Regions from separate parts of the Homo sapiens genome. Here regions 2 and 3 are each linked to region 1. Evidence: fine-mapped expression QTL. A gene starts in region 1. Each other region holds a variant in brackets. All regions are shown on one strand. Distances are from middle to middle. Region 1 holds the start of PLPPR2 (phospholipid phosphatase related 2). Region 2 holds the start of TSPAN16 (tetraspanin 16). Region 3 holds the start of TSPAN16-AS1 (TSPAN16 antisense RNA 1).

The links. PIP is the estimated chance that this variant, and not a neighbour inherited with it, causes the effect.
Region 2: its variant is fine-mapped to the expression of PLPPR2 in whole blood (TOPMed, PIP above 0.99).
Region 3: its variant is fine-mapped to the expression of PLPPR2 in blood mononuclear cells (TOPMed, PIP 0.97).

Annotation. Positions count from the first base shown.
Region 1 is chr19:11,348,101-11,358,462 of GRCh38, forward strand. It overlaps PLPPR2 (phospholipid phosphatase related 2), which reads left to right and starts at 7,332. Exons shown (of 10, transcript NM_001393892.1): 1 at 7,332-7,472; 2 at 8,702-8,876; 3 at 9,560-9,639. The coding sequence starts at 9,574. CCDC159 (coiled-coil domain containing 159) reads left to right here. Exons shown (of 11, transcript NM_001080503.3): 2 at 1,554-1,587; 3 at 1,838-1,926; 4 at 2,018-2,099; 5 at 2,708-2,903; 6 at 3,806-3,873; 7 at 3,957-4,033; 8 at 5,351-5,472; 9 at 5,692-5,774; 10 at 6,480-6,596; 11 at 6,773-6,844. The coding sequence ends at 6,777. RefSeq lists enhancers at 2,370-2,870, 8,244-9,185 and a silencer at 7,152-7,601.
Region 2 is chr19:11,288,617-11,298,983 of GRCh38, forward strand. TSPAN16 (tetraspanin 16) reads left to right here and starts at 7,544. Exons shown (of 7, transcript NM_001282509.2): 1 at 7,544-7,750; 2 at 9,526-9,723; 3 at 10,256-10,330. The coding sequence starts at 7,682. RefSeq lists enhancers at 9,577-10,078, 10,079-10,367. The variant C/T (reference allele first, on the strand shown) is at 5,223.
Region 3 is chr19:11,320,767-11,329,717 of GRCh38, forward strand. It overlaps RAB3D (RAB3D, member RAS oncogene family), which reads right to left. Exons shown (of 5, transcript NM_004283.4): 5 at 1,302-4,819. The coding sequence ends at 4,632. TSPAN16-AS1 (TSPAN16 antisense RNA 1) reads right to left here and starts at 559. Exons shown (of 3, transcript NR_187778.1): 1 at 458-559. It also overlaps a transcript of TSPAN16 not described here. RefSeq lists an enhancer at 3,482-3,691. The variant A/G (reference allele first, on the strand shown) is at 3,362.

The sequences.
Region 1 (10,362 bases):
AGCATGTGATTCCACACCTCCAAGCTTTTGCACATGCTGCTCCCTGCCAGGAAAGGCCTTCCTTTAAGCCAATGTCAAGGTCCCTTTTTTCTTTGGACTCTTCTGAGGCCTGATTTTTTTTCTTTGGGGCCTTCTGGGTCCTTCTCACTGCCCAGCCCAAACCTTGGGGCTGGGATAATCTTTTTTGTTGTTGTTTTTTATTTTTGGAGACTGAGTCTCACTCTGTTGCTGAGGCTGGAGTGCAGTGGTGCAATCTCGGCTCACTGCCACCTCCGCCTCCCGGGTTCAAGTGATTCTCCTGCCTCAGCCTCCCGAGTAGCTGGGATTACAGGCGCCCACCACCATGCCCAGCTAGTTTTTGTATTTTTAGTAGAGACGGGGTTTCACCATATTGGCCACGCTGGTCTCGAACTCCTGACCTCAAGTGATCCTCCCGCCTTGGCCTCCCAAAGTGCTAGGATTACAGGCGTGAGCCACCATTGCTGGCCGCGTCTGGCCTTGGGATCATCTTTTATCCAGCTTTGGCTCCTACCATAACTGAGAAGCCTTGAGTTTAGGGCTGAGGCCTCTCTGGCATGTCAGGGAGGGTCTGGGGGCACTGGGGACATGGGGACTTATCTCAAAGCAGCCCCTGCTTCCCTACTCACAGCGACCCTCTTTTGGCCGGCCTACCCCGGGACCCTGACTACTCTGTGTCCTGCCTCTACTCACCTCCCTCACCCTCCAGCATGTGTTTGCCTGCTAACATGAAGTGTGACAAGTACTGGGGTTAGTTAGGGGGCTCCCATAGGGCTGGGGACACTGGGAGGGGCTGGGAATGTGAGGAGTGCCCTGCACTGTCCCTCAAGGAAGCCCTCACCCCTAGGCTCTTCCTCGGACAAGGCTCTGGAGCGTACAGCTCACTGGTCCAGGACTCCAGAGCCAGAGACCTTGGGATGCCCTGCTTCTGGGGACACAGTGAGGACTGCAGACTGCAGGCCAGGGTGGGGCTCAGGGCCTTCGCCACATGAGGCTGCCCCCTCCCCCAGTCCAGACCTGCAGAAGCAGTGCTGTAATGACCAGGACATTTTGAAGAGGCATCACAACGTAGCTAAGGTCACCCCCACCCGGGAAACCCCTTCAATGCAGAAAACCACTGCAATCTACTGCTGTGGGGCTTAGGGAAGGGGCTGTAAGGCAGAGAGACTCCCATGAATGCACCCACTGTGTTTCTTCAGCACCTAGAACAGCACCTGGCACTCAGCAGGCCCTGGCTAAGCAAGTCTTAAATGAATGGATGAAGGAATGAATGGAAGGAAAGAGTGTGGTTGTGTGTCTTCCATGGGGATTTGGCTGTGATCGTCTCTCAGCCACATAAGTGCACTTCTGAGCATATGTAGCCCAAGGGGGAGGTGCATGAATATGCCTGGAGTGCAGCTTTGCCTGCACTTACGGTTTGGGACACCTAGAACTGAGGAGATCCAACTCTTGTCCAGCCCTCAAAACTGGGTTGAGGTGAGCAAGGAGGCAGCTCAGGGACAAATTTCTACTCCCATCTCATCTCTCTTCCTTAGAAGCCCTTGGAGACCAGCTCTTCCAAAGTCAAAGGTGAGAAATCTCCTTTCCAACAAAACTGTGTGGGGAAGACCTGCTGGTTTCTACCTCTACCCTCTGCCCCAGCATCAGCTGTCCCCCTGCCATGGTCACCCATTCACTCCTGCCCAAGGCTGAGTGGGCCCCTGTTCTATATCTTATCCCCTGTCCCTACTGCTACTCTGAGCCTTTGCTGACCTCTGCCCTGCCCTTGCCCCAGACCCCACCCCTTACAGCCCTGGCTCACCCTCTTCTCTGCCCACAGCCAAGACCATTGTGATGATTCCCGACTCCCAGAAGCTCCTGCGATGTGAACTTGAGTCACTCAAGAGCCAGTTACAGGCCCAGACCAAGGTGAACCACCTTGGCCCTGCCCCCAGCAACCTCTGTTTCTCCTTGCCCTCCCCTCCTTCCTCCCACCCCAAGGCTGACCTCTTTCCCCCAGGCTTTCGAGTTCCTGAACCACTCAGTGACCATGTTGGAGAAGGAGAGCTGCTTGCAGCAAATCAAGATTCAGCAGCTTGAAGGTGAGGACTGACCAGAGATCAAGGTCAGGCTAGGCCAGGCGTGGTGGCTCACGCCTGTAATCCCAGCATTTGGGGAGGCCAAAGAGGTTGGATCACTTGAGGTCAGGAGTTTGAGACCAGCCTGGACAACATGGTGAAACCCCATATCTACTTAAAAAAAAAAAAAAAAAAAGCCAGGTGCTGTCACTCATGGCTGTAATCCCAGCACTTTGGGAGGCTGAGGCAGGTGGATCACCTGAGGTCAGGAGTTCGAGACCAGCCTGGCCAATATGGTGAAACCCCATCTCTACTAACAATACAAAAATTAGCCAGGCGTGGTGGTATGCACCTGTAGTCCCAGCCACTCAGGAGGCTGAGAAAGGAGAATTGCTTTCTGGGAGGCAGAGGTTGCAGTGAGCCGAGATCACGCCACTGCACTCCAGCCTGGGCAACAAAGCAAGACTTCATCTCAAAAGAAAAAAAGTCAGGCTGGAAGCTGGTCCTGTTGGGATCAGCTGGGCCAGGCCAGGGTGAGGGAAATTGGGAGAGTCTGGGTTCTGGGTCAAGATTAGGACAAGCTGGGTTCAGGGTGGGATCAGGGCTCAGTCAAGGTCCCACACTCTCTGCAGAGGTGCTGAGCCCCACAGGCCGCCAGGGAGAGAAGGAGGAGCACAAGTGGGGCATGGAGCAGGGCCGGCAGGAGCTGTATGGGGCCCTGACCCAAGGCCTTCAGGGGCTGGAGAAGACCCTGCGTGACAGTGAGGAGATGCAGCGGGCCCGCACCACTCGCTGCCTGCAGCTGCTGGCCCAGGAGATCCGGGACAGGTCGGGGATGGCGGGAGGGCAGCTTGGAGTCCACAGGAGGGAAGGGAGACCCAGAACTGGGGAATGGAGGCAGGATGGGGGAAATGGCAGATGCCTGGGGGAGGGGGACTGAGGGATGGTGGAAAGCCTGAGGGACAAGAAGAGGGAATGAGGCCGGGTGTGGTGGCTCATGCCTGTAATCCCAGCACTTTGGGAAGCCGAGATGGGCGGATCACCTGAGGTCAGGAGTTCGAGACCAGCCTGGCCAACATGGTGAAACCCCATCTCTACTAAAAATACAAGAATTAGTCAGGCATGGCGGCGGGTGCCTGTAATCCCAGCTACTAGGGAAGCTGAAGCAGGAGAATCACTGGAACCCAGGAGGCAGAGGTTGCAGTGAGCTGAGATCGCACCACTGCACTCCAGCCTGGGCGCCTGGGCGCCTGGGCGGCAGAGCGAGACTCTGTCTAAAAAAAAAAAAATGAGGAGGGGATGAGAGGCTCAGGGGAGACAGGTGGCTGGTGGGGGCGGGGGAGTGGGAAACTGAGAGGCCAGAAGGCAGGGAAGACAGAAAGCTGGAGGTGGGATGGAAAAGGAGGCCAGGGGATCAGAAAGGGGGATGGCAGGGAAGACTGAGAGGACAGGAGACTGGGGGTATAGAAAGTCGGGGGACAGGAGGTGGGGAGGTGGAGGCCAGGTGATAGGAGGCTGAGTGGGGTGGGAGAGACTGAGAGAATGGGAGGCTGGGGATCAGAAGGAGAGGAGGGGGATGAGGGTAGGGGGATTGTAGAAGGGGAGGGGAAAAGGGCAGGGAAGTGTGGGGAGGGGACAGAGCTTGCGGGGATGGGTGGAGGCACAGATAGGGGCATGGGAGGTCAGGGGCCAGGCAGGGAGTGCAGGTCTAGGCTGCACTGTCCCCTCAGCAAGAAGTTCCTGTGGGAGGAGCTGGAACTGGTGCGGGAGGAGGTGACCTTCATCTATCAGAAGCTCCGTGAGTTCCTGGAGCCCACAGCCGGTGTGTGGGGAGGGGGTCCTTCTTCAGCCTTTGTCCGCCTGAGCCCCCTCCCTCCACAGAAGCGCAGGAGGATGAGATCTCAGAGAACTTGGTGAACATTCAGAAAATGCAGAAAACGCAGGTGAAATGCCGCAAAGTGAGTGGAGGAGATGGGGACCCTGGGGAGGAGTGGGAGAGGGAGGGATGGGGATTTTGGCCAGCCTCCACCATGAGATTGGAGCCTGGGTTCAAATCTCAGCTCTGCCACTCACTGCTGTGTGACTGTGGGCAAGTCACTTGACCTCTCTGAGCCTCAGTTTCCTCATCTGTATAATGGATGTAATAATAACTCATCTTGGCTGGGCGCGGTGGCTCACGCCTGTAATCCCAGCACTTTGGGAGGCTGAGGTGGGTGGATCAGAAGTTCGAGACCAGCCTGGCCAACATGATGAAACCCCGTCTATACTAAAAATACAAAAATTAGCTGGGTGTGGTGGCAGGCACCTGTAATCCCAGCTACTCAGGAGACTGAGGATGGAGAATGGCTTGAACCTAGGAGGCAGAGGTTACAGCGAGCCGAAATCGTGCCATTGCACTCCACCCTGGGCGACAAGAGCAAAACTCCCATCTTAAAAAAAAAAAAGAAAAAAGAAAAAGAAAAAGAAAACTCATCCTGTTGGGTGCTGTGGCATGCCTGTTATCTCAGCACTTTGGGAGGCTGAGGTGGTTGGATTGCTTGAGGCCAGAAGTTCAAGACCAGCCTAGGCAACATGGCAAAACCCTGTCTCTACAAAAAACAAAAAAAACAAGAGGGTGTGGTGGCACATGCCTGTAGACTTAGCTACTCAGAAGGCTGAGGTAGGGGGATCACTTGAGCCTTGGAGGTTCAGGGTGCGTTGAGCCCTGATAGTACCATTGCACTCTAGCCTGGGCGACAGACTGAGACCCTGTCTCAAAAAAGAAACAAACACCAAAAACAAAAACAAAAAACAAAACAAAAAAAAACACTCCTCCCTACCTGATCAGGTGTCTGTATTAGCTGAGTACTGTGCACTTGAATGCAGTCTGGCATATAACAAGTGCTATATAACAGTCACCTTTTACTATTATCATTATTATTATTTATTTTGTTTTCTTTTTTGAGACGGAGTTTCCCTCTTGTTGCCCAGGCTGGAGTGCAATGGCGCGATCTCAACTCACTGCAACCTCTGCCTCCTGGGTTCAAGCAATTCTCCTGCCTCAGCCTCTCGAGTAGCTGGGACAACAGGCGCCCGCCACCACGCCCGGCTAACTTTTTGTATTTTTAGTAGAGATGCGGTTTCACTGTGTTAGCCAGGATGGTCTCAATCTCCTGACCTCGTGATCTGCCCGCCTCGGCCTCCCAAAGTGCTGGGATTACAGGTGTGAGCCACCGCGCCTGGCACTATTGTCATTATTATTATGACTGCTGTTCTCTCATCCCTCCCCACCCCAGATCCTGACCAAGATGAAGCAGCAGGGTCATGAGACAGCCGCCTGTCCGGAGACTGAAGAGATACCGCAGGGAGCCAGTGGCTGCTGGAAGGATGACCTCCAGAAGGAACTGAGTGATATATGGTGATGCCCAGCCTGCAGTCTGACCCCTGACCCTCCTCTGAACCCGTTCCCCCAACGGGATCTGGCAGTGACCACCAGAACCTGGAGCCCACCTGAGTCCAGACTTCCCTCACCCCCTAGGACTCACCCCACCACGGCCCCCAACCTTAGCTGTACTGCTGTCTACACCCTGAGCAGTGTGGAGTCTCCCAGCGCCCCCAGCTCCTTGTCTTCTTGCAGGTCTGCTGTGCACGTGCTGCAGAACTCCATAGACAGCCTCACTTTGTGCTCGGGGGCCTGTCCCAAGGCCTCGAGCCTAAGAGGTGAGGGAGGCTGAGAATTGCTCAGGGGTGGGAGGTCATTGTCTAGCTTCACAGGGAGGCTATGTTCAGAGAGCCTATTTGGGAGTCACATCTGATGGGTGTTATTCTATGGTCACATTAAGTAGTGTTCTGGGGTCACATTAAGGAGTCACTGGAGGTTTCATCCAGGAGTCATTCATGGTCACATTCAGAGTCACTTGGATCTTATATGAGTCCATGGGGACTCCACACAGTGGCTCATGCCTGTAATCCTAATATTTTGGGAGGCTGAGGTGGGAGGATTACTTGAGTCTAGGAGTTTGAGACCAGCCTGGGCAACACAGTGAGACCCCATCTCTCCAAAAAATTTAAAAACTAGCTGGGTGATGGTGCACCTGTGGCTGAGCACACCTGTAGTCTCAGCTACTCAGGAGGCTGAGACAGGAGGATCGCTTGAGCCTGCGAGGTTGAGGCTGCAGTGAGCCATAATCGTGCCACTGCACTCCAGTCTGGGCAACAGAGCGAGACCCCATCTCTAAAAAAAAAAGTGTCAATTGGGTAAAATGCAAGGGTCATTGAAGTCATAATTTGGTGTCACACTGGATCACATTCAAGGGAATTGGGGGTCATGGTTTAAGTATCAATGAGGTATACTATGAAGGGACACAGGGCCTATATTTGGGGGTTACTTGAGGGTCACATTCAGGGAACCTGTCCCTCCTGCAGGCCACAAGGGGCACCAGTGCCTGAGCCCTCCACTCCCCTCCTGGGACTCTGACTCCGACTGTGACCAGGACCTCTCCCAGCCACCTTTCAGCAAGAGCGGCCGCTCCTTCCCACCCGGTGCAGATCCTCCCCAGTCCCCCCCTCCACCCATTTCCCTCCTGACCTGCCCTTGACTCCCACAGTCTAGACCCTCAGAACAGGCCCAGATCCTGATCTGGGCATGCGGTCCCTGACCTGCAGCCCCGGAGTCCCCTGGACCTGGCCAGGCCCTGACCCACCCTCTCTCTCCACAGCTTGAGCAGCCGGGACTGCTCTCCCTGAAGACCCCTCCAGAGAGAAAATAAACTAGCCCAGACCCTCCTCTAGCCCCGACTGTTAGTCTTGCTGCTTCCTGTGCCTAGGAATCCCCCTGCCCTCCTAGTTTACCCCTCATTGTTGGGGGGGAGGGGTGTAGAGACCCCAGGGGTCATTCGGGATGTGTGGGCTTGGAATCAGGGGACATCTGAAGCCAGATTTAATATATGACAAGGCAAGGAGTCATTCTGTCCAGACACGAGCAGCCAGACAGACTTCCACACTGGCCACAGAGCCTTCCTTTCTGGGGGGCCCTGGCGAATGGGGAAACTGAGGCCCAGAGAGGGAGAGGCGCGGCCCAGGGACATACTCTGAAGCCCCTCCCTCCTATTACCCTCGGAGCCCCGCCCACCCCAGGGTCCTCCCTCTCTACTTCCATTCTTGGTTCCTTCCTACAATCGATGCTAACACGCCCCGCCTCCAAGATCACGGAGGCCCCGCCCCACGGGGCTATGCAAATGAGACGCCCGGAGGCCCCGCCCCTCCCTCCACCTCGGAGTCTGCGCGGCGCGGCCAGGCCCGGCCGACCGCGTCTCGGTCTTCGCGTCTGCCAGCCTGGCTGGCAGTCCGTCTGTCCATCCCGCCGCGCCGGGGCAGTCTAGGCGGAGCGGGGGCTCAGGCGGCGGCGGCCTCGACGCGGTGAGAGGAGGGGGTGGGGGCGCCCCTCATCCCCTCCCGTGGGCTTCCCACCCCCGGTGTCGGTCTCCGGTTCCTGAGGGTTGGGTCCCTCTGGGTCCAGCGCGGGGAGGGGCGGGGGAGGGGAGGCGGCGAGCTGGGGGAGGGGACCGGGCTGGGGGAGGGGACCCCGGGCCGAGGAGCCAGCACCGGTGGTGAGGGCGGCTGTGGGTAACTGTGATTGTGTGGTTGTCATTGTGTGTCTGTGTGTGGTTGTGTAACTGTCATCGTGTGGCTGCATGACTGGGATTGTGTGGTTTCGGGAGGTCCGCGGGTGTGTGTGTGTGTGTGTCACTGTCATTGTGCGGCTGTCGTTGTGGGTGTCACTCTGATGGTTTGTGTGTGTGTGTCTGGCTATGCTGTGACTGCCATTGGCCCCCCGTGTGGCTGCTGTCTCTGTGTGTGACTGTCTTGGTGTTCGTGTGGTTGTGTGCATAGGACTGTCATTGTGTGGCTCCTGTTGTGTGTTCATTCTGATGGTGTGTATGTGTGTGTGGCTGTGGTCGTGCGCTGTGCACCTTTCTTGTGTGGCATTGTGAGTCTGTGTCATGGTCCATGGATGTGGCCATGTGGTTGTAGATGGCACCTTGTCTCTCCCCTGTGACTGTTGGTGTGAATAAGAGACTGTTAGTGTGTGTGTGGCTGTCGCTGAGTGCCTTGTAATTGGGGGTGTGACGCTGTGATGAGTTCTGTGACCCCCATTGTGTGCGGTGACTCTTTTCTGTGACTCTTAAGTGTGTTGCAGGCCTGACTGTGTGTCCCTGACTGTAGCGGTGTGGGGGCTTGTGTGGGACTGTGATGTGTGTAGGGTCTCCTGACATGTCTCTCTCTGTTTGGCCTGGGGTGGGGGTGGGGACTTGTTTGATCTGTTTGGTGTCTCTGACAGGCTATGAGCCCACTGTGTGTGAGTATGCAGTGACATGTGTTGTGTGTGTTGGACACCTGTCTGAACAAGGGGGCCCCTCTTGTTTACTGCAAAGTGGCGCCCAGCACAGCGCCTGGAAGTCGGCAGGTGCTCGGTCTTCACTGTGGGATGGGTGAACGCTATGCCATGGTTGTGTGTGTGTGTGTGTGTGTGTGTGTGTGGTGCCAGGATGGAGGCTGCGGCTGGGTTGTGCTTCCTAAGGGTGACAGCATGGGTGACTCTGGGTATCTAGGACCTCTGGCAACCATCACCCCATATCACACTGCAGAGTGAGTGTCGTGGTTGGGGTGCTGGACCCAGAGTGCCTACCCTCGCCTGCCTGGGCCTCAGTTTCCACATCTGCACAATGGGGGTGACCATCCCTGCCCTGCTGGCTGCCAGGAGCGGCTGTGAGTCTTCAGGCGTGGATGCAGCCTGGGGGAAGCCATAGGGCGCTTTCACAGGTGAGATGGGGCTGGGAGAATGGATGCAAGCAGGTGTGACTGTGTTGAGCCCTAAAGCGCTGGGGACTGGGGGTAGCCTTGGGGGAGGGAAGAGGAGAACTGGGAGGCAGACCGGCTGGGAAGAGGGGGAAGGAGGGAGAGGCAGTTGGCAGAGAAGGAGGGCTTGGCTATCAGCCCAACCAGACACCAACACCACAGCCCATGGGGACAGAGAGAGGGGCCCCTGCAGAGGCCATGGAGGAAGCGACTCAGGGGAAGGGTCTGGTAGGGATGGGGGCCCCTTGGGAAAGAGGATGGTGTCCCCTAAAAACTAGTGGGGACCCTTCTAAGTGCCATGGGGGAGGGGTTCCCATGAGGCTGGGGAGTCTCTTCTAAAGGCCCACCTCCTAAAGGGCATTGGGTCAGAGCCTCCCATGTAGGCTGTAAAGGAAGGGACCCCCGTAGACTCTTGGGGAGTGGTGTCAGAGGAGGCAGGTGTCCCCAGTAGGGTCAGGACCAACAGGGCAGGACCTGGATTGCAGAGGCATGGCCAGAAGGTTCAAGGGACAGAGTCAGGGCCTCCCCGGGTCTTCAGGGCCAGGGGTGTGGCCAAAGGACTCAGGGGATGAAGCCAGGGTCCCGGTGACCTGAGCCTTCCCCTAGGCACACCCCCTGGGACTCCCACTCCCTCCCCACCTCTGCAGGCCTGGCCTTCACCATGGCGGGAGGGAGACCGCATCTGAAGAGGAGTTTCTCCATCATCCCCTGCTTTGTCTTCGTGGAGGTGAGGACCCCCGTACCTCTCCCAGAGACGGCGTGCCTATCTCTGTCTCTGTCCAACCTCAGTCTCCTTATCTGTACCCACTTTTCCATCTCTGGGATCTCCCTTGCTGTCCCCTTTCTCTTGAGAAATGGTTATGAGCTTAGATTCAGAAGTGCCACTCCCCGGGGTCCAATCCCTCTCTGCCCCATCCACACTGCAGGGTGCTGGACACCACAGGTACCCTCCTGAGCCACAGTTTCCTCATTCATAAAATGGACATCACCAGAGTCCCAACTCATAGGGCTGTTCTCTGTGTGTGTGTGTGTGTGTGTGTGTGTGTGTGTACGTGTGTTTGAGATAGGGTCTCACTCTGTCACCCAGGCTGGAGTGCAGTGGCATAATCTCGGTTTACTGCCACCTCCACCTCCTGGGCTCAAGCAATTCTCCTACCTCAGCGTCCCGAGTAGCTGAGACTACAGGTGTGTGCCATCATGCCCAGCTAATTTTTGTACTTTTTGGTAGAGGTGGGATTTCAACATGTTGGCCAGGATGGTCTGGAACTCCTGACCTCAAGCAATCCTCCTGCCTCAGCCTCCCAAAGTGCTGGGATTACAGGCGTGAGCCACCACGCCCGGCCTCCTAGGGCTGTTCTAAAGGTAAAATATATTAATTCATGGACAAAGCTTGGTACGACCCCCTGCCCACAGTGAGGGTTACACCTGTGGTAGCTGCTAGCACCCCTAC
Region 2 (10,367 bases), 59 kb before region 1:
TAACTTAAAATTTTGTCATTTTAACCATTTTAAGTGTACAGTTCAGGCCGGGTGTGGTGGCTCACACCTGTAATCCCAGCACTTTAGGAGGCTGAGGTGGGCGGATCACTTGAGGTCGGGAGTTTGAGACCAGCCTGGGCAACATGGTGAAACCCCGTCTCTACTAAAATTACAAAAATTAGCCGGGCATGGTGGCACGCTCCTGTAGTCCCAGGTACTCAGGAGGCTGAGGCAGGAGAGTTGCTCGAACCCAGTAGATGGAGGTTGCAGGGAGCTGAGATCGCAAGATCACGCCACTGCACTCCAGCCTTGGCAACAGAGCAAGACTCTGTCTCAAAAAAAAAAAGAAAAGTACAGTTCAGCAGCATTAAGCACATTCACATCGCTGTGCAGCCATCACCACCATCCGTCTCCAGAACTTTCTCATCTTTCCAAACTGAAACTCTATCCCCATGAAACACTCACTCCCCACGCTCCTCTCCATTCCCTGGTACCCACCATTCTGTTTTCTGTCTTTATGAATCTGATGACTCTAGGGACCTCAAATGAGTGGAATCATGCAATATTTGTCTTTTTTTTTTTTCGAGACAGAGTTCGCTCTGTCGCCCAGGCTGGAGTGCAGTGGCGTGATCTCGGCTCACTGCAAACTCCGCCTCCCGGGTTCACATGATTCTCCTGCCTCAGCCTCCCAAGTAGCCAGGATTACAGGCGCCTGCCACCACATACAGCTAATTTTTGTATTTTTAGTAGAGACGGGGTTTCACCATGTTGGCCAGGCTCCAAACTCCTGACCTCAAGTGATCTGCCAGCCTTGGCCTCCCAAAGTGCTGGGATTATAGGCATGAGCCACCGCGCCTGGCTCCCGTTGTCAATTCTTTTAGTTAAGAATTTGAGCAGGTGTGGTGGCTCATGCCTGTAATCCCAGGATTTTGGGAGGCTGAGGCAGCCAGATCACTTGAGTCCAGGAGTTCAAGACCATTGCTAGAGCCTGTCTCTACCAAAAATGGAAAAAAAAAAAAAAAAGGCAGGTGCGGTAGTGTGTGCCTGTAGTCTCAGCTACTCAGGAGGCTGAGGCGGGAGGATCACTTGAGCCCTGGAGTTTGAAGCTACAATGAACTATGATCACATCACTGCACTCCAGCCTGAGCAACAAAGTGAGATCCAGTCTGCAAAAAAGCAACAAAGATTTCTGCATTCATTTTCTCAGCTTTTGAGCATCTTTTCCTCTAGTTGGACAATCTTATACTTAATCAGCTACTAATACTTTCAAAGGGCATTTAAGGCCGGGCACGATGGCTCACGGCTGTAATCCCAGCACTTTGGGAGGCCGAGGCAGGTGGATCACCTGAGGTCAGGAGATCGAGACCAGTCTGGCCAACATGGTGAAACCCTGTCTCTACCAAAAATACAAAAATTAGCTGGGCATAGTGGGGCATGCCTGTAGTCCCAGCTACTGGGGAGGCCGAGGCAGGAGAATTGCTTGAACCCAGGAAATGAAGGTTGCAATGAGCTGAGATTGCACCACTGCCCTCGGCCTGGGCAACAGAGTGAGACTTCGTCTAAAAAAAAAACAAAAAAACAAAAACAAAGGGCACTTAAGTTGTTGTTTCCAATCATTCACAAGTCAAGCGAGGCTTAAGAGCAGGCATTAGCAAAACTACATTCTGCCACCCATTTTTGTAAATAACAAAACCATCTCATATTATAAATAACATTTTATTTTGACAGAGTCACACTTGTTCATTTACATATATTTACATATTGTCCATTTACATATTTTCTATGGCTGCAATAGCAGAGTCCCAACAGAGACGGTATGGTCCGCAAAGCTGAAAATATTTACTTTCTGGCTCTTTCCAGAAAAATCTGCCAGCTCTTGGCCTATGTGCATTTGAATAAATCTGTAGTAGGAATTCCTAGAAGGAGAAACATTCCCCACAAGGTTTTAAAAGTCCATTTGCGGTTGTTACAGGTCCGCCTGTAATAAAATCTCCAAAAGCTATTTATGAGGTCTTTTTTTTTTTTTTTTGAGACAGAGTCTCACTGTGTTGCCGAGGCTGGCGTGTGCAGTGGCAAGACCTCGGCTCAACGCAACCTCCGCCTCCCGGGTTCAAGCGATTCTCCTGCCTCAGCCTCCTGAGTAGCTGAGATTACAGGCATGCACCACCATGCCCGGCTAATTTTTGCATTTTTGGTAGAGACGGGGTTTCACCATGTTGGCCAGGCTGGTGTCAAACTCCTGACCTCAAGTGATCCGCCTGCCTTGGCCTCCCAAAGTGCTGAGATTACAAGCGTGAGCCACTGCACCTGGCCAACCTTTTCAATGTGTTTAAGTGAGATACTTGAGGAATATGGGATGGGAACAGTCTTGGCCACCCTGGGACCAGCTGCCCAGACAACAGAGGGAATTAGAACCCGATCCCCCATGCTAACAAGAACAGAAGCCCCCTCGAGATGTGTCACCTGCATGCACTGGTCTGGGGCCACTCGCTGCTTCCTGAACTCTCATCAGGACCCTCCAGTCCTCCTAACCCTTCAAGGTTGATACCCCTGAAACCCTCCCTTCTCATCACTGCCTGGGTATACCTTATATACTAAATATTTTTAATATTATCAAGGATCTTGGCTGGGTGTGGTGGCTCATACCTGTAATCCCAGCGCTTTGAGAGGCTAAGTCAGGAGGATTGCTTGAGCCCAGGAGTTCGAGACCAATCTGGGAAACATAGCGAGACCCCTGTCTCCACAAAAAATAAAAAAATTAGCCGGGCGTGGTGGCACGTGCCATTGGTCCCAGCTACTCTAAAGGCCAAAGCGAGAGGATCGCTTGAGCCCAGGAGGGTGAGGTTGCAGGGAGCTGAGATCACACTACTGTACTTCCAGCCTGGGAGACAAAGCGAGACCCTGTCTCAAAAAACAAACAAACAAACAAAAACCCATCTCCTGGTTCTCCTTAATTTCACTTCCCTCTTTTCCAGCCAGAAGCTAAGGTAGCTGAAGGGGTAGAAATTGCAGATCTTTCTTTATGTAGCAAGAGAGAGGAACTGGGAAAGCAGTGAGTGTCCCTGTAGGACAGGGGTCTTCTTATTTTATTTTATTTTTTTGAGACAGAGTCTCGCTTTGTCGCCCAGGCTGGAGTGCAGTGGTGCGGTCTCGGCTCACTGCAACCTCCATCTCCCCAGCTCAAGCAATTCTTCTGCCTCAGCCTCCTGAGTAGCTGGGATTACAGGTGCCCACCTGTAATTAACCGCATCCAGCTAATTTTGTAGTTTTAGTAGAGACGGGGCTTCCCCATGTTGGCCAAGGCTGGTCTTGAACTCCTGACCTCAGGTGATCCACCCGCCTCGGCCTCCCAAAGTGCTGGGATTACAGGTGTGAACCACTGTGCCTGGCCTGACAGGGGTCTTCTGATCACTCCTCAGTGCCTCCCAACCCACCATACAGAGCACAAAGTGTTAACCCTAAGGCAGAATGTGAACATGGGGAAACAAATGCAATTTTAAAAAACAACCAGCCAAACAAAAAAATCCCTAATGGTGGAAATGCTGTTTGTTTTTTTTTCATTTGGTAGCAATGATTACCATCATGCTCCTCTCCTGCCACAATGACGTCAGCCCCTGATGCTGAAACTTGGTGACACTTCTGTGCTTGTCCCCAGTGAGGGCTGAGGTGCACAACCTGGGAACTCCTAGAACAAGTGACTGATGCCAAAGGTGTGGACCAGCCTCTGCAAGGACAGACACCTTTCTTTTGTGTGTCCCAGACTTTTTTTTTGGATGGTGGATTCTGATTTGCCTCCTTCCCCAACGATGGCTATTAAAATACCTGAAACCATAAAATGCCCCTTTGTCAAGGATGGATCTAGGTTTTGTGAGGCGTAAACAAATACATTTCTGCCGCAAAGTTTACATGAACAAGTGAGCAGGCGAACCTACTGCCGCGCTCCTCTCTGACCTTGAAGGGTGGGCGCAAGCTCAGGTCTCATTCATTCACTATTTGTTGTTCAGTGCTCCCAAACACCCAATTGTTGCCCTTGACAACAAACACATGAATTTAAGAAGAGGAGTTCAGGCCAGGCACGGTGGCTCACGCCTGTAATTCCAGCACTTTGGGAGGCCGAGGGGGGTGGATCACTTGAGATCAGGAGTTTGAGACCAGCCTGGCCAACGTGGTGAAACCCCATCTCTACTAAAAATACAAAAATTAGCCGGGCGTGGTGGCGTTGCGCCTATAATCCCAGCTACTCAGGATCCTGAGGCAGGAGAATTGCTTGAGCCTGGGAGGCAGAGGTTGCAGTGAGCCGAAATCGCACCACTGCACTCCAGCCTGGGCAACAGAGAAAGACTCCGTCTGAAAATTAAAAAAAAAAAAAAAAAAGAGGAGAGTTTGTTGACTAATATGGGTCGTTGACATAAATATTCTGTGTGTGATTGTATTCAACACATTTCATTTTTTGGTTGTGATTTTTTTTTTTTTTTTTTTTTTTTGAGACGGAATCTCGCTCTGTCGCCCAGGCTGGAGGGCAGTGGCGCGATCTCGGCTCACTGCAAGCTCCACCTCCCGGGTTCACACCATTCTTCTGCCTCAGCCTCCCGAGTAGCTGGGACTACAGGCGCCCGCCACCACGCCCAGCTATTTTTTTTTGTATTTTTTTTAGTGGAGACGGGGTTTCACCGTGTTAGCCAGGATGGTCTCGATCTCCTGACCTTGTGATCCGCCCGTCTCGGTCTCCCAAAGTGCTGGCATTACAGGCGTGAGCCACCGCGCCCGGCTGGTTAATTGTGCTTTTTAAAAAATATCTCCCATCCCCATAAATATGTACACCTACTATGTGCCCACATAATTAAAAATTAAACAATTTTAATCCCCTAAAAATAAAAAAGGAGACCAAGCATGTGGAGAAATAAATGTCTCAACACACCATAAGGGTGTATTGGAGTGGCCCTTCTATGATTTTGACAATGATATTAAACGTCCTGGCCGGGCGCGGTGGCTCATCCCTGTAATCCCAGCATTTTAGGAGGCCGAGGCAGGAGGATGGCTTGAACCTAGGACTTAGAGGTCAGCCCAGGCAACATAGCGAGACCGCGTCTCTACAAAAAAAAAAAAAAAAAAAAAAAGCAAGTATCTTGCATTTGCAATTCGTCGGATGCCTGCAAAGTTCCGTGGGTGTGTGATGTAGGAATCTGGGGCACGGGAAGTTATTCTTGCTTCATTTCCTGACG[C/T]TGACCGGCTGGGCGGGGTCCCTGGGGCACCCGGGCACATTTGGACGTGTTTGGCAGGGAGAGTCCTGGCCCAGCCCCGGCACGTAGGGCCGCGCTTCCACGGGCCGCCGCCAGGAGACGCGCGAGGCTGTAGATGCGGCTTTGCAGAGAAGCTGGGAGGGTAGAGGGGCTGGGGCGGTCGAGGGGCGGGGCTGCGTGCAGCCGGCCCAGATTCCTTTCCGGCCAGTTCCTTCCAGGAGCTGCTCCCACGTCTACAGCGCCGTCTGCTACTCACCCAGCTCTCTTGTATCTGAGCCTCATTTTCCCACCGTCCTTTAAGCCCGTTTTCCCACTGCTCATTTGCAGCCAAGTTTCCATCTCGCATCTTTGCGTCCCCCTTCTCTGCACCCTCCTTTGCACCCCCATTTTCCTGCTTTCCCTTGAGTCCACATTTCCCAGACCTCCTTTGCCCCCTACATTTTCCAATGCTCTCTTGCATGCCCATTTATCACCCTCTTTTGTGCCCCCATTTCCAGGCCCTCAGCCCCTGGTTCTGAGGTTCCTTACTTCAAATGACCTTTTTTTTTTTTTTTTTTTTTTCCTGAAACGGAGGAGTCTCCCTCTGTCTCCCGGGCTGGAGTGCAGTGATGTGGTCTCGGCTCACTGCAACCTCCGCCTCCCGGGTTCAAGAGATTCTCCTGCCTCAGCCTCCCGAGTAGCTGGGACTGCAGGCACCCGCCACCACAACCGGCTAATTTTTTGTATTTTTAGTAGAGACAGGGTTTCACTGCATTAGCCAGGATGGTCTCGATCTCCTGACCTCGTGATCTACCCACCTCGGCCTCCCAAAGTGCTGGGATTACTGGCGTGAGCCACCGCGCCTGGCTTCAAATGACCTCTTAAATAAAGGTGTGGAAGGACACACTCCTGGCTGTGAACAGCACCCGTGGTCCAGGAGGAGACAGCACTCCTCTGTGAACATCTTGCTTAGTTCTACATGTTCCAAGAAGCAGGCGATTTGACAGACATTCATTAAATTAATTAAAGTGTAAGGTATTTTCTCCCATTTGAACCATCCGCCTTCCCCCAATCCATGCAGGACCTGGACCCAGACACACCCCAGCCCAGGGCTGGACAGAGAGGGGATCGGGGTGGGGCAATGTGAAGCTGCTATGGTTAGGGTGGGGAGGTATGGGGGCAAAGTGGGCTACAGACTGCAGGATCTAGGCCTGGAGGTCTTCAGTGCTGACATACAGAAGGTTTTTGGTCCTGAAATGCTAACTACATCTATCACCATGGAGAAAAGCCCAATGACCTGCTACTTGGGAGGCTAAGGTGGGAGGATCACTTGAGCCAGGGAGGTCGTGGCTGCAGTAAGCCATGATCACACCACTGCACTCCAGCCTGGGCAATGGAGCAAGATCCTGTCTCAAAAGAAAAAAACCCAGTGACCAATGGCTCACAGTTCCAGGACTCTCTGCCTTACAGGTTCCTGCCCTCATGTTACTCTTGGGGCTTCAAAGCCTGGTCTTGCTTCCTGTGTGGCCTCAGGCAGTTCCCTTGGCCTCTCTGAGCCCTGTATGAAGGATGGGCCAAGTATGGGCTTGGGCTTGGGAGGCCCGGTGGCTTGTAGCTAGATTTCTGCATCACAGAGCCTCTGGATCCATTCATTCATTCTCCGCGGGTTTCTTAAGTACTGCAGTGCCAGGCTTTGGGGACACAGCTGTTTTTGTTTTTGTTTTGTTTTGTTTGAGACAGAGTCTCACTCCGTCAACCAGGCTGGAGTGGAATGGCACGACCTCAGATCACTGCAACCTCCACCTCCTGGGTTCAAGTGATTCTCCTGCCCCAGCCTCCCAAGTAGCTGGGATTATAGGCGTGTGCCACCACACCCAGGTAATTTTTGTATTGTTTGTATTGTTAGTAGGTCTCAAACTCCTGACCTCAGGTGATTCGCCCGTCTCCGCCTCCCAACATGCTTTGACTACAGGTGTGAGCCACTGCGCCTGGCAGGGGTCACAGCTGTTAATAGGACAGCCCAAGTTCCCCCCTCCCCCGCTTGGATCCCCCAGTCTACTAGGAGATGTCAACTGTGCAAGTGGTTAGCTCTGGGCACTATGCCCACAGGGTCCTGGTGGCATCTGGAGGGTACCAGGGTAGCATACCATGCCTGTTCTCTTTCCCTGCTGTGACCTGTTTGAAGGATGAGGAGCCAACAGGGGGCAGTTTGGGGCACCTGATTTCCCTGGACCATGAGCCTTGCTCCAGAACCCAATTGTGATGTGATAAAAGGCTTATGACCAGGGCAGGGGGCAGCTGCTGGGCCGCCTTGGACAACCATCAGGCAGCCAGGACACAGAGGGGCAGAGCAAGTCAGCATTGGCGCCCCTTCCTCAGATCCCTATCATCTTGGGAAACAGTAGCCCAGAGGTTCAGGAAGATGTTAACTTAAATGTTCAGGGTGCCCCAGTCTGTTCAGCATGGCTGAAATCCACACTCCGTATTCTTCCTTGAAGAAACTGTTATCTTTACTCAATGGCTTCGTGGCTGTAAGTATGTCACAATCCAGGCCCCTGGTTTGTTGCAGCCCTTCCTCCACAGTCAGCTCCCTGAAAGACAGAAATAAGTTGATCCAAATTGGCATCGAGATCTGTGGTTCCCTGGAGAAGCAGGAGGGATGTAGGGCAGACGGAGGAGGAGGAGCAGGGAGCGTGGGGACCTCCATCAACCGAGAGCTGGTGAAATCCAGCACAGATGAGTGTGATCTGGGGGAGCCCAGGTGGGTGATGGAAGAGCTTGGCTCTAAGTCAAATCCTGTAGCCGACCAAGTTGTTTGGGAAGGCCAGGAGAAAGGGTTATTTTCTTGATCTTTTAAATTTGTCACATTTTTTTCCTTACCGTAAAAGTAACCCGAAATGTACATTGCTAAGGAATTGTCAGGCCGGGGGCGCTGGCTCATGCCTGTAATCCCAACGCTTTGGGAGGCCAAGGCGGGTGGATCACGAGGTCAGGAGTTCAAGACCAGCCTTGGTCAATATGGGGAAACCCCATCTCTACTAAAAATACAAAAAAATTAGATGGGCGTGGTGGCACGTGCCTATAATCCCAGCTACTCAGGAGGCTGAGGCATGTGAATTGCTTGAACCTGGGCGGCAGAGGTTGGCAGTGAGCCGAGATTGTGTCACTGCACTCCAGCCTGGGCAACATAGCGAGACTCTGTCTCAATAAAAAAATAAAAGAATAAAAACATAAAAAGAAGTAATTGTCTTCATTGTAGCATAGTCTAAGGAAAAGCTGCCAGGAAAGAGAAGGAAATGAAATATCACTCCTCCTCTTCACTTGTAACATTTTAAAGAGAATTAAGGCCGGCTGTGGTGACTCATGCCTGTAATCCCAGCACTTTGGGAGGCCGAGGTGGGCAGATCCATTGAGCCAGGAGCTCGAGACCAGCTATAGTGAGATCCCCATCTCTATTTAAAAAATAATAATACAAAATAAAGTGTTATTGGAACATGGCCGTGCTCACTTATTTGGAGATTGTGAACAGCTGCTTTTGGGCTACACCAATAGAACTGCGTAGTTTCAACAGACACCTTAAGTCCTGCAGAGGCCACAACATCTGGGTTTTTCAGAAAAAAAAAATTGCTAATCCCTGTCCTATGACATTATTTTATTTTATTTTATTTTATTTTATTTTGAGACGGAGTCTTGCTCTGTCACCCAGGCTGGAGTGCAGTGGCATGATCTCAGCTCACTGCAACCTCCACCTCCCAGGTTTAAGCGATTCTTCTGCCTCAGCCTCCTGAGTAGCTGGGATTACAGGTGCCCACCACCACGCCCGGCCAATTTTTGTATTTTTAGTAGAGACAGGGTTTCGCCATGTTGGCCAGGCTGGTCTCGAACTCCTGACCTCAGGTGATCCACCTGCTTCGGCCTCCCAAAGTGCTGGGATTACAGGTGTGAGCCACTGTGGCTGGCCTATTTTATTTTTTGAGACAAGGTCTTGATCTGTCATCCAGGCTGGAGTACAGTGGCACAGTCATAGCTCACTGCAGTCTCAACCTCATGAGCTAAAGTGATCCTCCCACTGCAGACACCTGAGTAGCTGAGACTACAGGCACGCACTACTACTGGCTATTTTTTTTTTGTTGGGGAGAGGGTACAGATGAGGTCTTACCAAGCTGGTCTTGAACTCCTGGGCTCAAGTCTTGGCCTTGGCCTCCCAAAGTGCTGGGATTACAGGCATGAGCCACCGCACTCACCCAGTTCTATTTGTATACAACTAACAGATTACTTTTCTTCCTTTCTGGTTTCTGTTCTAAAGGTGTCTGGCATCATCCTAGTTGGCCTGGGCATTGGTGGTAAATGTGGAGGGGCCTCTCTGACGAATGTCCTCGGGCTGTCCTCCGCATACCTCCTTCACGTTGGCAACCTGTGCCTGGTGATGGGATGCATCACGGTACTGCTTGGCTGTGCCGGGTGGTATGGAGCGACTAAAGAGAGCAGAGGCACGCTCTTGTTTGTAAGTTGGATCTGCACACAGACCCCAGAACTGCCTCCCCACACACACAAATCTTTTATTGTGCGTGTTGCAAACAACTTTGCTTGGTGTCACCTATTTTTTTTTTTTTTGCGGGGACAGGGTTTCACTCTGTCGCCCAGGCTGGAGTGCAGTGGCACAATCTTGGTTCACTGCAACCTCTGCCTCCCAGGTTCAAGCGATTCTCCTGCCTCAGCCTCCCGAGTAGCTGGGATTACAGGCACCCCTACCATGCCCTGCTAATTTTTGTATTTTTAGTAGAGACGGGATTTTGCCATGTTGGCCAGGCTGGTCTTGAAGTCCTGACCTCGTGATCCACCCGCCTCGGTCTCCTAAAGTGCTGGGATTACAAGTGTTGAGCCACTGCTCCCGGTCGAATTGTTTTAAACTGGAGAGGCCAGGGTGGCCTGGGGTGGAGGGTCGGGGGAACAGAGACAACCCCTCACCTGCAGGGTATAAGGTCGGGAGGAGGCTGAGCAGGCTCCCAGGCCCTCTCTCCCCGTGTGTCTTTTAGTGCATCCTGTCAATGGTTATTGTCCTCATCATGGAAGTTACAGCTGCCACAGTGGTCCTTCTTTTCTTTCCAATTGTAAGTACAGCCCTGCTCCTCCCACATAGCATTAGAA
Region 3 (8,951 bases), 28 kb before region 1:
TGAGATTTGCACAGTAGCCCAAAAGAGGAAGTTCAGTTAGGGGAGCTTTGTTGTATTAGTCTGTTTTCCTACTGCTGGAAAGAACTGCCCAAGACTGGGTAATTTATAAAGGAAAGAGGTTTGCCCGTGTACGGTGGTTCACGCCTGTAATCCCAGCATTTTGGGAGGCCAAGGTGGGCAGATCATGAGGTCAGGCGTTCGAGACCAGCCTGGCCAACGTGGTGAAACCCCGTCTCTACTAAAAACACAAAAATTAGCCAGGCGTAGTGGAGTGTGCCTGTAATCCCAGCTACTCGGGAGGCTGAGGCAGGAGAATTGCTTGAACCTGGGAGGCGGAGGTTGCAGTGAGCCAAGATGGCACCACTGCACTCCAGCTGGGTGGCAGAGTAGGACTGAGTCTCAAAAAAAAAAAAACAAAAAAATACCCAAAAAAACATAAGAGGTTTAATTTACTCACAGTTCAACATGGCTGGGGAGGCCTCAGGAAATTTACAATTATAACAGAAGGCAAAGGGGAAGCCAGATACCTTCTTCACAAGGTGGCAGGAAGGAGAAGAGCCGAGAGAAGGCGGAAGAATCCCTTATAAAACCATCAGATCTCGTGAGAACTCACTTGCTATCAGGAGAACAGCATGGGGGAACCGCCCCCAGGATTCAATGACCTCCACCTGGTCTCTCCCTTGACACGTGAGGATTATGGGGATTACAATTCCAGATGAGATTTGGGTGGGGACACAAAGCCAAACCATATCAACTGTGACTACCTTGGGTAAGGGCCATCCAGGCAGAGGCAGGGGGAACATTCTGGGCAAAGGCCTTGGGGCAGGGGCCTGGTATGTTCAGATAGCAGCAAGTAGGCCAGAGTGGCCGGAGGGGAGCAAGTGTGGGGAGGCCAGTGGAGAGATGAGGGTAGGGAAGGGATGGATCAGATCATGCAGGGCCCCGGGGGCCACAGGAAGGACCTCAGCATTTACTGCAAGTAAGGTGGGAGCCATCGAATGTTCTAAGCAGAGGAGGAATGCGCTGTGACTCAGGTGTTCACAGGTGCCCTCTTGCTGCTGGGGAGAGAACTGAGCTTTTTACTAGAAGTAGTTGAGGGAAATAGTGTCCTCCCTACCTTCCATATAACAGAGCTTTCCAAGGTCAAGGTGGTGGCCATGGGACCCAGTGGGAGGCAGCCCGAGGCCCGGTGAGGTTTCTGCTGTGTCTTGAAGAGCCCTTGACTGATATCTGCTTAGTTGCAAATCAAACCCCCTTTCCCAGAAACGCACTTCACTAATGGAAATAAAAGCACAACTATATTTGGGCACGACGGATTTAAGTTTTTCTTGTTGAGAAGAGTACATCTTTCCAAACTGGACATCAAGGAATTGCTACACAGAAGAACCACATCCAGGATAGAAAGGACCAGCCAGAGCTCGTTCAGTAGTGTATTTCAGAATCATCAGGGAGGAGCCGGTAGCAGAATTATCCCGTTAACACTGAGACCACATTTCACCTGTTACTTATTTTTCTAAATGGAGTAGGAGAGAAAGATGCTAAAATGTGATCTTGGGAGGAGTCCCCCAGTCCCCCGAAAAAGAAGAAGAAAAAAAAAAAGCAGAACTCCAAACCCCTGTGGTCATGGCAATTTCCCATCAAAACTGCCCATGTAAAATAAACACAAGCTGCTAAAAGTGAATGTTAAGAAGGAAGGCACTGGTTAGTGGGTGGTCCTGACCAATCCCCTGGAGCTGGAGAGGGGTTTTCCCACGGCCTTTGGTTTAATGTGTCTGTAAACTCAACAAACCTCCGTTTCCCTGAGGTAATCTGCAAAAACATCAGTTTTCAGTCCCCAGAGACCATTTCCAATTAAACCTCACCCCCCAAATCATTCAATGTAACATTTGCCTTATTTTTAGAAGAAACAAATGTTCCCATATTATTCCCAGTTTTTGAGAGAATCCTGAGGCAGCTCTCTCGGCTGCTACTTGAAGTTGAATTCTTGAAAAATCTTATGTAAACAGAAAGCTTAGGCCAGGTCAGGAGTAAAATGCAGTCAAAGCTGTTTCTCATCACACAGGTGATTACAGGTTAGCTCTGCCCTATTCAAGACAATCTGATCCATTCCTTTTTTTGACAGCAGTTTAGAGACAATTGGCCAACAAAACCAGCCTGGCCAACAAGGTGAAACCGTCGCTACTAAAAATGCAAAACTTAGATGGGCGTGGTGGCAGGTGCCTGTAGTCCCAGCTACTTAGGAGGCTGAGACAGGAGAATCGCTTGAACCCGGGAGGTGGAGGTTGCAGTGAGCTGAGATCATGCTACTGCACTGCGGCCTGGGCGACGAGCGACTCTCTGTCTTAAAAAAAAAAAAAACAAAAAAACCTCAGCAGGCCATACTGCATCTTGAGAAGTCTTTTTGAAGCTACTTTAGTTTGACTTTAGTGTTAAAGTAGCTAAAAATTTTTGACTCCCGCCCACATATTCAGATACCCTCACTTTGTGCATAGGATTTGTCCATTACACCTCAGTCATCTAATTTGTTGGTATAAAAGATACCCTCGGCTGGGCGTGATGGCTCACGCCTGTAATCCCAGCACTTTGGGAGGCCGAAGCAAGTGGATCACTTGAAGTCAGTTTGAGACAAGCCTCACCAACATGGTGAAACCCCTTCTCTACTAAAAATACAAAATTTAGCCGGGTGTGGTGGCAGGTGCCTGTAATGCCAGCTACTCGGGAGGCTGAGGCAGGAGAATCGCTTGAACCCTGGAGGTGGAGGTTGCAGTAAGCTGAGATTGTGCCACCGCACTCCAGCCTGGGCAATAGAGCGAGACTCTGTATCAAAAAAACAAATGAAAAAAAGATACCCCACTCCAAAGTTCTAAGGGTAGCCTCTGGTATGAAGAAACCAGGGCTCCCTAGAAATAAATCTAAACTTGAACCAGGCTTTCCCCCTCACACATACCCCAGGGAAGAGGCTGAGCTCATGAAAGCTGCAGGAAGTCATTTTGGCTTCAGGGGCTGGGAGAGCAGACACAACCTCTGAAACAGAGTCAGGGACGTGGGAACATAAAACATCCACTTAGCCATCCTAACAGTGCTGGTCCTGTGAAGGGGTGTTGGTTGGTGTTTGGGAGCAAAGAAAAGGTGCTGCGCCCCTAGAGTTTGGAATCTGATGGGCAGAAAGTGCCTCTAAACCGGAGGTCAAGATGTACATCTTCAAACTGCACACGTAACCTCTGAGCAGAAGCCCCTGGAGGTGGGGACCCCAGCTTCAGAGACTCCCCGGCACTGATCACAGTCCATCCCCCCCATTCACATAAGGTCCTGCCACTCTCAGGCTGTCTACAAAGTACAAGCAGTGACAGCAAGTTACTCA[A/G]TCCTACCTCCTCACCCCTTCCGCCCAACCCCCAGCATCCCTTAGAAGTGACCCCTAGTTTGAGGCTGTGGTGAGCTATGATTGCACCACTGCACTCCAGCCTGGGTGACAGAGCCAGACCATCTCAAAAAGAAAAAAAAAAAAAAAGAAGTGACTCCTCCATTAGCAAAAATTGTCACATCCCTGGGCCCTGCCGATGACAAGGATTGGGAAATGGACATTGGGTCTTGAAGGGCCCCCCTCAAGTCGGAGCCCAGGTGCTTACATCAGAAAGTCGCCGACAACTGCCTGCGGTGGCTGGGAACGTTGCTTCATTTCCTTTTCTAGCAGGATGCATGATTGGGCAAGAACTTGCTTAAAACACAACCAGCTAAACAGCTAAACAGGGCCTGGGAGGGAGGCCCCAGCCCCAGGCTCCTGGCTCTGAGGTTAATTAACTTCTGGCCGAAAGCCCAGAGCCGGAGTGCTAGGGGTTGGGCGAATCTCTGCCCAGTCTAATGTGGTCCATAGTTCCAGAATTCACTTCAGGATCAGAGATGTGGTGAACACAGCAAAAACAGTGGCAGGGTCGTGGGTGATGTGGATCTTGGGGGAAGCTTGGAAGGCACTTCTGGGGTCCCTGAAGCCGGGGGGTTGAGGGGATCTGACTCCCTGTCCCTTCTACAATGGGAAAAGGCTGCTTCAATGCTGCTTTTCGCAAGTAGAGGGTCTGCAGGGGTCAAAGGGATCACCATCCCACCTTGGAATCCAGAAAGTTCGTGGGGGCAGGCTCAGAGACCAGCCTGCAGGACCTGAGAAAGAGGCGCCGCCTTCCCTGGATGAACTCCAAGAACCCACACTGTGCGAGGAAGATGAACCATCTTCCACCAGCTTGGGAATATCAGTCCTGCCCAACCCAGAAGAGACCTGGAAAATGGTTCTAAGCTAGAAGGCACCACGGATGCCCCTCCATCAGAAAGAGTGGGACGTGTCACCCATGGCCACCCTCAACACACCCTGGAAAGCAGCAAGCTCATGCACGTCAGTGTCCCTGGGCCTCTGCCTGCCATGCAGAGCTGAGTCCCCATGGTCCGCAGCCTCCCACCGGGGCTGCCTGAGGAACCTGGCAGCCACGGCGACATTGTGAAGGAATGAGCCATGCAGGAGTCGGGGAGCAGTTGACAGGAGGGAAGGGATTGCCCTGAGCTTGGAGATAACCACTGTGGCTCACGCCTCGATCACAGTCCCTGCCGAGGCAGGAGAGGGGTGGGTGGGGGGTTGGGGGCCATCTCTAGCAGCTGCAGCTGCTGGGCTGGGGGGCTGGAGCATCCCCCACGGCCGGGCCTTTCCCGTTGCTGCCTGAGCTGGAGCTGGGTTCCAGGGACTCGTTCATCTTCTCGCAGATGACATCCACCAGGCGCTCGAAGACCTGCTTCACATTGATGTTCTCCTTGGCACTGGCTTCAAAGAACTCGAAACCTGGATGAATGTTAAGGTGGGGACACTCGTAAGACCCCTGAGGGCAGAGTCTCAGCTGTGGCATCACAGAAACCTGGCTTCTAAGCCTAGTTCTGCTCTTTATCCTGCTGTGGGACCTTGGTTGTGTGCCTTTGCCACTCCAAGCCTCAGTTTGCTCACCTGTAAAATGGGAATGATGATCCTACCAATGATAAAAATCTGTGGCAGGCCAGGCGCAGGGGCTTATGCCTGTAATCCTGGCACTAAAGGAAGCTACGGCGGGAGGATCGCTTGAGGCCAGGAGTTCAAGACCAGCCTGGGCAACATAGCAAGGCCCTATCTCTACAATAAATTTTTTTAAAAAGTAGATGGGCGGCCAGGTGAGGAGGCTCATGCCTATAATCCCAGCACTTTGGGAGGCCGAGGCGGGAGGATCATTTGAGGTCAGGAGTTCAAGACCCGCCTGACCAACATGGTGAAACCCCATCTCTACTAAAAAGACAAAAAATTAGCTGGGCATGGTGGCACGCGTCTGTAATCCCAGCTACTCGGGAGGCTGAGGCAGGAGAATTGCTTGAATCTGGGAGGCGGAGGTTATAGTGAGCTGAGATCACACCACTGTACTCCAGCCTGGGCAACAGAGCGAGATTCTATTAAAAAAAAAAAAATAGAGGGGCATGGTGGCGTTCACCTGCAGTCTCAGCTACTCGGAAGGTTAAGGCAGGAGAATGGTTTGAGCCCAGGAGGTCAAGGCAGCAGTGAGCCATGATCACACCACTGCACACCAGCCTGGGTGATGGAGCAAGACCCTGTCTCAAAAACAAAACAAAACGAAACCCTGCGGCTGCAGCCATGGTCTGGACAATCCTAAGATCTCTTTGTCACAAGGCAGTGGCTGCAAGAGTATAGGTGGGAGGGTACATGAAGAGTTCTGCTGCCCTGCGGCCATGGCAGTGCCCACAGGTGGCTATAGCTCAGCTTCCACCCAATTTCTGCTGCACAGAAAGGCATGGTCAGGAGACCCATCAAGTCACATTTTCCATTGCTTTTTTTAAAAGAGAAACGGTCTCTCTCTATTGCCCAGGCCGGGGTGTAGTGGTATGAACATGGCTCATTGCAGCCTCAACCTCCTGGGCTCAAGCGATCCTCCCGCCTTGGCCCCCTGAGTAGCTGGGGCTACAGGTGTGCCCCACCATGCCCGGCTAATTTTTCAATTTTTTCTTTTGTAGAGGTGGGGGTCTCGCTATGTTGCGCAGGCTGGTCTTGAACTGCTGGCCTAAAGCGATCCCCCCGCCTAGGCCTCCCAAAGTGCTGGGTTTACCAGCGTGAGCCACCACGCTGGGCTTCCTGCATCCTTTTAAGGTTCCTGAGGGTCTGCCTGAGAGGAGCTGTCCCTGAATCTCCATGCAGCCCCACCTGCCACATCACCAAGGTAAGCCAGGAATTCAGACAAACGCCTGCCACGTTACACGTGGCCAAGGGTAAGTGGACCTGTCTTCTCTGTGCGTCATGCTGAACTATGAAAATGGAATCATAATGAGTTAGCTGTGTAATTACCCATTTATTATCTGTCTCCGCTACTAGAAAGCCAGCTCCAGGCAGGCAGGATTTCCGCCCATGGCTGTACCCAGTGCCCGACACAGAGAGGGTGCTTAGAAACTGTCTGCTGAATGGTTGAATGAATGAATGGGTAAATGAACAATAGCAGGGGCAGGACATGAACTTAGATCTCCTACTGTCAGCCCAGAGATATCAAAGCCATCCCACTGTCTTCCTGGGCAAATCTGGTGTTTCCTTATCCACGCGTGGCTTTGCCTCATACCATCTGTGTTCTTTATTTTTCTTTTTGTTGAGACAGAGTTTTGCTCTTGTCGCCCAGGCTGGAGTGTAACGGCACGATCTCAGCCCACTGCAACCTCCGTCTCCCGAGTTCAAGCGATTCTCCTGCTTCAGCCTCCCAAGGAGCTGGGACTGCAGGTGTGAACCACCATGCCAGGCTAATTTTTGTATTTTCAGTAGAGACAGGGTTTCGCTATTTTGGCCAGGCTGGTATCGAACTCTTGACCTCAGATGATCCACCTGCCTCAGCTTCCCAAAGTGCTGGGATTACAGGCATGAACCACCGTGCCCAGCTTATTTTTCTGATATTAATCAGGCGTGGTGGTATGCGCCTGTAATCCCAACTACTCAGGAGGCCAAGGCAGGAGAATCACTTGAACCCAAGAGTTCAAGACCAGCCTGGGTAACATAGGGAGACCCTGTCTCTAAAACAAATAAAAATTTTAAAAAGGAAAAAAAATACATTTTTTGGATGTCATTCAATAGAGAAATTTACTGGAGAAACTAGAAACTACAGAAAAGTATTAAGACAGCCTATAATCCCAGTACTTTGGGAGACTGAGGCAGGTGGGTACCTGAGCTCACAAGTTTGAGACCAGCCTGGGCAACATAGCAAGACCCAGTCTCTAAAGAAAATATAAAAATTAAGGCCAGGCATGGTGGTTCACGCCTGTAATACCAGCATTTTGGGAGGCCAAGGTGAGCGGATCACTTGAGGTCTGGAGTTTGAGACCAGCCTGGCCAACATGATGAAACCCCGTCTCTACTAAAAATGCAAAAATTAGCTGGCCATGGTGGTGCACACCTGTGATCCCAGCTACTTAGGAGGCTGAAGCAGGAGGATCACTTGAACCTGGGAGGCGGAGGTTGCAGTGAGCCGAGATTGTGCCATTGTACTCCAGGCTGGGTGACAGAACAAGATATTATCTCAAAAAAAAAAAAAAAAAAAAGAAGAAGGTTGGGGGGTGCCAGGCGTGGTGGCTCACGCCTGTAATTCCAGCACTTTGGGAGACGGAGGTGGGCGGATCACGAGGTCAGGAGTTCGAGACCAGGGCCAATACGGTGAAACCCCGTCTCTACTAAAAATACAAAATTTAGCTTTGTGTGGTGGCACGTGCCTGCAGTCCCAGCTACTCAGGAGGCTGAGGCAGAAGAATTGCTTGAACCCGGGAGGTGTAGGTTGCAGTGAGCCGAGATTATGCCACTGCACTCCAGCCTGGCAACAGAGCAAGACTCCATCTCTAAATAAATAAATAAATAAATATTAGCCAGGTGTGGTGGCATGCACCCGTAGTCCCACCTACTTGGGAGGCTGAGGTGGGAGGATGACCTAAGCCAGGGAAGTTGAGGCTGCAGTGAGCTGAGGTCATGCCATTGCACTCCAGCCTGGGCAACAGAGTGAGACCCTGTCTCAAAACAAAAACACAAAGAAATGTATGGAGATAGAGATAAAAGTAATTTGTAATCTCATCACTTGGAAACAATTACTGTTGGCGTTTTGCTATTTAGCTTTCTAGTCTTTATTCATCTTTTTTTTTTTTTTTTTAAGACAGAGTCTCCCTCTGTTGCCCAGGCTGGAGTGCAGTGGTATAATCATAACTCACTACGGCCTTGACTCTTGGGCCCCCCTCAGTCTCCCAAGTAGCTGGGACTATAGGGGTGTGCCACCACACACAGCCGATTTTTGGTATTTTTTATAGGGGTGGGGCTTCACCATGTTGCCCATGCTGGTCTCTAACTGCTAGACTCAAGTGATCCTCTGCCTTGACCTCCCAAAGTGCAAGGATTACAGGCATGAGCCACCATGCCCAGCCTTTAGTCTTTTTCTATATAAATATGTCATTTGTTGGGGTTAGGTTTGTAGGGGATGTGTGTGTGCACATGTATGTGTGTCTGGCTTTTTTTCCTACAAAATTGGAATCAGGCCAGGCGTGGTGGCTCACACCTGTAATCCCAGCAGTTTGGGAGGCCGAGGCAGCGGATCACCTGAGGTCAGGAGTTTGATACCAGCCTGACCAACATGGTGAAACCCCATCTCTACTAAAAATACAAAAGTAGCCAGGCGTGGTGGCACATGCCTGTAATCCCAGCTGTTCGGGAGGCTGAGGCAGGAGAATTGCTTGAACCTGGGAGGCGGAGGTTGCAGCGAGCCAAGATTGTGCCACTGCACTCCAGCCTGGGCAACAAGAGCGAAACTCCATCTCAAAAAAAAAAATAAAACAAAAGAAAAGAAAAAAAAATTGGGATCAAATTCTGTGTCCTGCTTTGTATGCCAATCTTCTTTTTGTGTGTGTGTGAGATACAGGCTCACTCC